Homo sapiens: one gene and its partner. The protein of the gene in region 1 purifies or fractionates together with the protein of each later gene. This does not show direct contact. Each region holds a gene or a part of one and is shown on either strand. Other genes may lie near its edges.

What was found. Proteins that work in one complex are often made in the same cells at the same time.
Region 2: the proteins of WASHC4 (region 1) and WDHD1 fractionate together in Homo sapiens (co-fractionation; one large-scale study listed by BioGRID). This does not show direct contact.

What each region holds. Positions count from the first base shown.
Region 1 is NC_000012.12:105,114,231-105,117,730, reverse strand, and holds part of WASHC4 (WASH complex subunit 4), read right to left. Parts: coding exon 3,462-3,500; intron 3,370-3,461; coding exon 3,304-3,369; intron 2,548-3,303; coding exon 2,502-2,547; intron 2,071-2,501; coding exon 2,003-2,070; intron 1-2,002. UniProt on the Homo sapiens protein: Acts as a component of the WASH core complex that functions as a nucleation-promoting factor (NPF) at the surface of endosomes, where it recruits and activates the Arp2/3 complex to induce actin polymerization, playing a key role in the fission of tubules that serve as transport intermediates during endosome sorting.
Region 2 is NC_000014.9:54,964,600-54,968,099, reverse strand, and holds part of WDHD1 (WD repeat and HMG-box DNA-binding protein 1), read left to right. Parts: intron 1-705; coding exon 706-820; intron 821-1,493; coding exon 1,494-1,625; intron 1,626-3,500. UniProt on the Homo sapiens protein: Core replisome component that acts as a replication initiation factor. Binds directly to the CMG complex and functions as a hub to recruit additional proteins to the replication fork.

The DNA.
Region 1 (3,500 bases):
AGGAATTTCTGTTGGTGTTGTGCATTGCTATATCACCAGCACCAATAACAGTTTCTAGCATATACTAGGCTTACAAAACATATTTGTTGAATGTTTAAAAACGGAATTTTTATGCAGCTGTGAGATCTAAATATGATGTAAAGTATTTTTTAAAATGAAAATAAATAACGCATTTTATTTTTAAATAGTTATAGTTTTACATGTCCTATTAAACTTCTAGAAGTTTAAAAAAAGCAGAGAAAATGTAGGACAAACAGAAAGAACAAAGTAAAAAGGCAGAAACAAGCCCAGATATACATACAGACTATATAAGATAGACCTAGAAACAGAATAAATTAAGCGATTAAAAAACAGGTATTGTCAGACTACATTAAAAAAGCAAAATTTAGATATATGTGGTTTTAAATAAACCCAACTAAAACATGACACTGAAAGGCTGCCAGAATGGAAAAAGATAAATCAAGAAAATGTTAACTAAAACGGAGCCAGGGCAGCATTATTATTATACTGTCAGACAAAACAGACTTGATTAGCATCAGTACAGTAAATTGCTATGCATGTAAAATACATATACATAATCATATACACATAATCATGATCATAGCTAAGGAAGGTCACAAATGATGATAAAAGATTCAATTTACCAGGAATGATTAACAATTCTAAACTTGTACACACTGAATAAAATACCCTCAAAATGAAAAATGCAAAGTTTCCACATTTACTGGGACCTTACCAACTACATTTTTTAGACACCTTGCTGGAAAAGAAGCCAGCAGCAGATAGGCAGTGCCACCTCAGCATAGGCATCAGTTTCATGGGGCTTCTTCTCCAAGCTCCCAGATCCTGGCAATCCCAATCTTTATCCTTTTTGTTCTCTGGATGTAAAGGAGGTATCTGTTTCCTTTGGACTACACCTCAGTATTTTCTTTGTCCTCCAACTCCTGGGTAACCAATTCTCTATATTGAATCCCCTCTCTTCTTATTTAAATACATTTTATTGTGTATATTTAAGGTATACAACATGTTATGGGATACATACCGATAATAAAAAGGTTACTATAGTCAAGTGCAAATCCATCATCTCACATAGCTAACCCATTTTTTTGTAGCAAAAGCAGCTAAAATCTACTCAGCATGAATGCCATATACGGTATTTTATTACCTGTAATCTTCATGTTGTACATCAGATCTCTAGACTTACTCATCTTACATATCTGCTACTTTGTATCCTCCAAACTACATCTTTTGAAATACCTTGTATGGAGTTTTCTAGACAGGACCCTGAATAACACATATCACAATATGAACAAAATGCTCTCAATTAGATCAATTAGACCAAAAAAAGTAGTAAAGATATAAAAGATTTGAACAGTATGTTAGCATGCCTAATTTGATGAAATATATCAAATCTTGTACTCAACAACAGAAAGGAGGTGGGACTATGGGTATTTTTTCCTTAGCTTCAATTTTTGCTTTTTCACATCGTACATGCACTATTTTTATCACAGAGGAGGAAATAGAAGCCATTTTATTCTTTTGATAAGAGTAAACCAAAGGACCTACAATCATTAAAACTGGCAGTGATGAGAAGCTATCTAAACTGAAACAAGCTGTTAGAAGCATGGAGGGCTACCGCTTTAAACAACTTCATCATTGCTCATGTAATAGCTTAATTCTCTCCTATCCGTTAACAACTTTTCCTGATACAATTTATCTTTTCCAGTGGGTACAAAGTTTAAATTATTTTAAAAGGCATGGTGACAAGTTGTCCATAAAGAAATATACACAAAGAAACTTATTTTGATAGCTTTTTCCTCTAAAAATACTTGGAAATCTTTTAGGAGTTATGATCTCCTAAACTATAATCCAATGCTAATTAAGTGTCTTATCCTCAGAGTACACATCTTTAGTATTTGAAGGTTTCAGAACTTTTTACGTGTTGTGTAATTTACTCAAACTTTTTGAAGTAAAAGCTCAGTAGAAAGTAAAAATCAGTTACCTGTAAGAATGAAATAAATCTCCCCATTTGAATTTGGCAATCACCTTCCACCATGCTGGCATCTGTAGCTGTAAAAGGCAACATGAATAAGCATATTTCATTTTTTAAATTTAAACTCAATCAATACCAAAAAAGGGGGAAAAGTTTTTTTTTTTCATTAGGACATCTTTTACTCTGCATAGTATTGAAAACAGAATTTTTACACCAAAGAGAAAAATCAGACAATCATTAATCAAATAATTAGAAGTATTTGCTTCACTATTTAATGAATTCAAGGAAAATTCTCATCTACCTACAGTACTTCGTAAAGTACAAAGATATCACAAATTTGCTGCTGCTTCCTCAGCTTTTTTACCTGTTTACCAAACATACCAACAAAAAATATGAATACTTATTTTTCTCACACTATTATATAATCATAGTAGTCCTAAAATTGTCTGTTAACTTTTTGTTCATTTCAATATCAAAAAGGCATCACAATTTGGAATTTTAAACTTACCTCCTTCTCCATAAAACAAGAGACCATTGTAAAATTTAGTTTCAGCCTGTTTTTAAGAAAAAAATTAAAATAATTTTAAAGGTTGTTTTGTTTCCAAATTCCTATGCTCTCTTAGATCTGTATACTTAGTAATAAACAGAGGGCTACATCATTTGCATACAAATTCATTTAAATTCAAAATCTGTTTATAAAGCAATTCATCTTTAGAGTAACAAAAATATTACTGATACTCAAAGCTGTATCTTGATTCCTTTAGCCTTTACTTCATCTTATCTGACCACCCTCACTGTCCCACATCCTCCCATTAGTTTATGGGAAATAAAGAGCAACCACATGGTATCAAAAAGCAGGAGAAGAAAATACGAAGTTTGTCAACTTCTACCAGACTTTTAATGGTTCTTGGGTAAGGAAACACAAAACTAAATGCATTTTAAGAAAAAAAAATCAGTTTTCTCTAGATAGCCAGTATATATGGCAGGTAACACAAACTCTGGAGGTTTGTAAACCTAGATTCAAACTGTTGACTACCAGTAAGATGTTATGCAAGTGACACTCTCTTTAAGCTTCAGTTTCCTCATCAATGTCTCACCTACCTCCTGGGGTTACTATAAGGATTACAGTGTTAGCCTGGTGTTTTGTACATACTAAGTACTCAATGAATGGTAGTCCGTATTAGTATTACGTTAAATAAATAATTCATTCAACATTCAATAAATATTTATTGCACACTGTACATATATAAACACATACTTGCTTCTAAATGATGTTTTTAAAGTTTTAAGACAAGAATTCAAATAATTACCTCATATTTTAATTTCTTGATTTCACAACAAAGTGCAGCATAAACAGTGATGACTTTGTTTAAGACCTAGTTTCATGAGTAAAAACAAAATAAAAAGTAAATTGTTACAGATAACTAAAACATTTTTAAAACAATTTTTTAGATTTAGGATTCTGTACCTTGTTTTCAGTCTTTATGAGTTCCAAAAGAGAGGACTG
Region 2 (3,500 bases), on another chromosome or scaffold:
TGACCTTAGAGTATGTTCCATGTGCAGCTTCATCAGCATTTATCTTGGTGATAACATGGATTCCATGACAGGTATTAATGGTACAATTTTTATGTTTTAAAAGTGGTAGTTTGCTAAGGAAAATATGAAGAGAGCTGATTTCACTTTTAGTGGTTGTCATTTAATAAAGTGAGATGTGAGGTTGGGCAGGGTAGCTCACGCCTGTAATCCCAACACTTTGGGAGGCAAAGGTGGGAGGCACACTTTAGCCCAGGAGTTCGAGTCCAGCCTGGGCAACATGGCAAAACCCCATCGCTACTGAAAATACAAAAGTTAGCCAGGCATGGTGGCATATATCTGTAGTCCCAGCTACTTGGGAGGCTGAGGTGGGAGGATTGCTTGAACTTGGGAGGTTGGGGCTTCAGTGAGCCGTGATCACACCACCGTGCTTTAGCCTGGGCAACACAGTGAGACCCTGTCTCAAAAAAAATAAATCAAGTGAGATGTGAGAAGGAATTTTTCTATTCTTGAAATGCATGTAGGGATAGTCTTTATGCCTAGTCAAGCCTAAAACACTTTTTTAAAAAGAGATATTTGTTATATATGATTAAGGCAGCTATTATAATATTACTATTCTAAGTTACTAACTTTTGAAAACTTTTTAAATTTTGTAGTTTTTATGACATGTTAGTAAATTTTTATGATGGAACTTTTCTTTACTAACAGGTGCATTCCTTGTAAAGGTTCTCGGTTTCCCCCAACCCTTCCACGCCCTGCTGTTGCTATATTATCCTTTAAGCTTCCTTACTGTCAGATTGCAACAGAGAAAGGACAAATGGAGGTATGTGGAAGTCTTACCTTGACACTTTGAATTTGATAATACAGCACCTGTGATACACACACTTTAAAATTATCCTGATGGCCAGTATTGAATATTCATTACTGTATAATTACATAAATAGGGGTAGCAGGGAGGGAAGAGGACTGCTTGGGATCACCAGGCCACCTGATTGCCATCACTGCTTCCAGGGACTTTGTCTACAAAGTAAATGGGTGTGACTGTCAGAGACCCACTGGGGAAAGACTTACTCTCAGGATGGGGCATGTCCCTGAGAAGAAGTGCCTCCATACATTTTGTGCCATAACACCTGGCTTGCCTGACCCTAGTCCTAGCCTTGTGTCATCAAAAGTCATTTGAAATCTTGCAGTTAGTTATTCTAAATAAGAAACAAGTTAGCTTTTAAAAATCTTGTTTACCAAATTCTCTGAGCATTAATTATGATAGCTAGGAAACTGTTTTAAATGCTGTATTCCTCCCCAGCTGCCTTTTTTAAGGATAGGGGAAAAAGTTAAGCTGTAGTATCACACTAGAATTTAAATTGTAAAATAAACTTATAGAAAGGAAGAGTTCAGAACATATTTTATTCAAAAACTGGTATCTTAAGATAAATATTTAACGCTTGCCTCATATTAAGGTGATAGTTGGCCTTAAGCAATTTTATTTGCTTTTATAGGAGCAATTTTGGCGTTCAGTTATATTTCACAACCACCTTGATTATTTAGCTAAAAATGGTTATGAATATGAAGAGAGCACTAAAAATCAAGCAACAAAAGAGCAACAGGAACTTTTAATGAAAATGCTTGCGGTGAGTAAAATAAATATACTGAAAACGTTAAAGTTAAATGCTTTTCTATAGGTTGAATTTCTTAAAGGTCTGTGCATTAGGACTAAGTCCCACAACCTAAGATTCTTAAGTTTTTTTTTGTTGTTGTTGTTGTTTTTTGTGCGACGGAGTCTCGTTCTGTCACCCAGGCTGGAGTGCAGTGGTGCGATCTCGGCTCACTGCAACCTCTGCCTCCCGGGTTCACGCAATTCTGCCTCAGCCTCCCGAGTAGCTAGGATTACAGGCACACACCACCACGCCTAGCTAATTTTTTTTTTTTTTTTTTTTTTTTAGTAGAGATGGGGTTTCCCTATGTTGGCCCGACTGGTCTCGAACTCCTGACCTCGTGATCCGCCCGCCTCAGCCTCCCAAAGTGCTGGGATTACAGGTGTGAGCCACCACACCCAGCCATTCTTAAGTTTTATCTGGTGGTGTTTTCCCTTGTAAAGTTCTATCTTCTAGTTGGTCTTGCAGTTAAAATTTTTTTCTTTTTTTTTTTTTAGGCGGAGTTTCGCTCTTGTTTCTCAGGCTGAAGTGCAGTTGTGCAGTCTTGGCTTACTGCAACCTCCACTTCCCGGGTTCAAGTGATTCTCCTGCCTCAACCTTCCGAGTAGCTGGGACTACAGGCGTGTGCCACCATGCCTGGCTAATTTTTGTATTTTTAGTAGAAACAGGGTTTCACCACATTGGTCAGGCTGGTCTTGAACTCCTGACCTCAGGTAATTCACCTGCCTCGGCCTCCGAAAGTGCTGGGATCACAGGCATGAGCCACCGTGCCCAGCCTAAAATAAATAAAACAGTACCTTGTAGCTAAGATCATGTGCAGGAATAAACATCTCTAGGGCTACTTCCCTTTTGCTTTTGCCCATCAGTCTATGTTTTAACGGGCTCTCAAGGTAACTGAGAACCACTGCTCTAGTTTCTGTTATTATTTTACAAAGTTTGAGTATATACTGTTTTTTAATCTCCAGGGCTGGGCAATCTTAAGAACTTTGATCGGGCTGTTAGATATGCCTGCCTTTTGTCATCCTCTTTGAGTTAGGCAGCTGTGTGTGATGAAAATTTATTTGTGACCAGTGGCCAGGTTTGGTGTCTAGAATATTTAAGTACATTTATCTTTGGAGCAGGGTGTCTTAAAGTTCCTGTGCTTGTGTCCCCACTCAAGGTTGGTTTATGGAGAGGAGTATAGTATCATTTCTTCTTTATTTGTCTTACACTAGACTTTATGCCCCAGAGGGCAGAGACCTGCTCACTGCTGTATGCCAGGCACTGACATGGTGGCTTAACACATAGTAGACCTCGATATTTGTTGACAAGAGTGAATGGTCCAGACTTTTAATTTTAAAATTGGAGAAAAAAGGTTCTTAGAGAAAAGTGGTATATGAGACCACAGAGCAAATTGCCACTCTTGTCTCCAAAAGGTAGTACTCACTACTGTCACCTTTATGCAACATGGCCTTAAGTTTGGTATTAAGAAAACTCAGTTTATTGTAGAAAAAGTTTTATTCCTTTTATAAAGTGTTACTTGTGGTCCAGGAACTAGTAGCCTTTTTATTTGTACAACACATATAAGGAAACATATTTCATGTATTTGCTATTTAGCCTAGAGGAGCTTTTCCCTGTGGCAGTGTTTCTCATATCAAAAATACCAGGGGACTCATATCAAAGATGCCAGGGCAGGAGGATATCTTGAGCCCAGGAGTTCAAGGGGATTGTTGAGTTCTTCTTTAGCATTCCTGACCCCCGGGCAAATGCCTTTAGTTCAGAATAGTCACTGTGGAAACCAGACTATTCCTTTTTATTTCTTTTTTTTTTTTTGAAACGAAGTCTCGCTCTGTTGCCCAGGCTGGAGTGCAG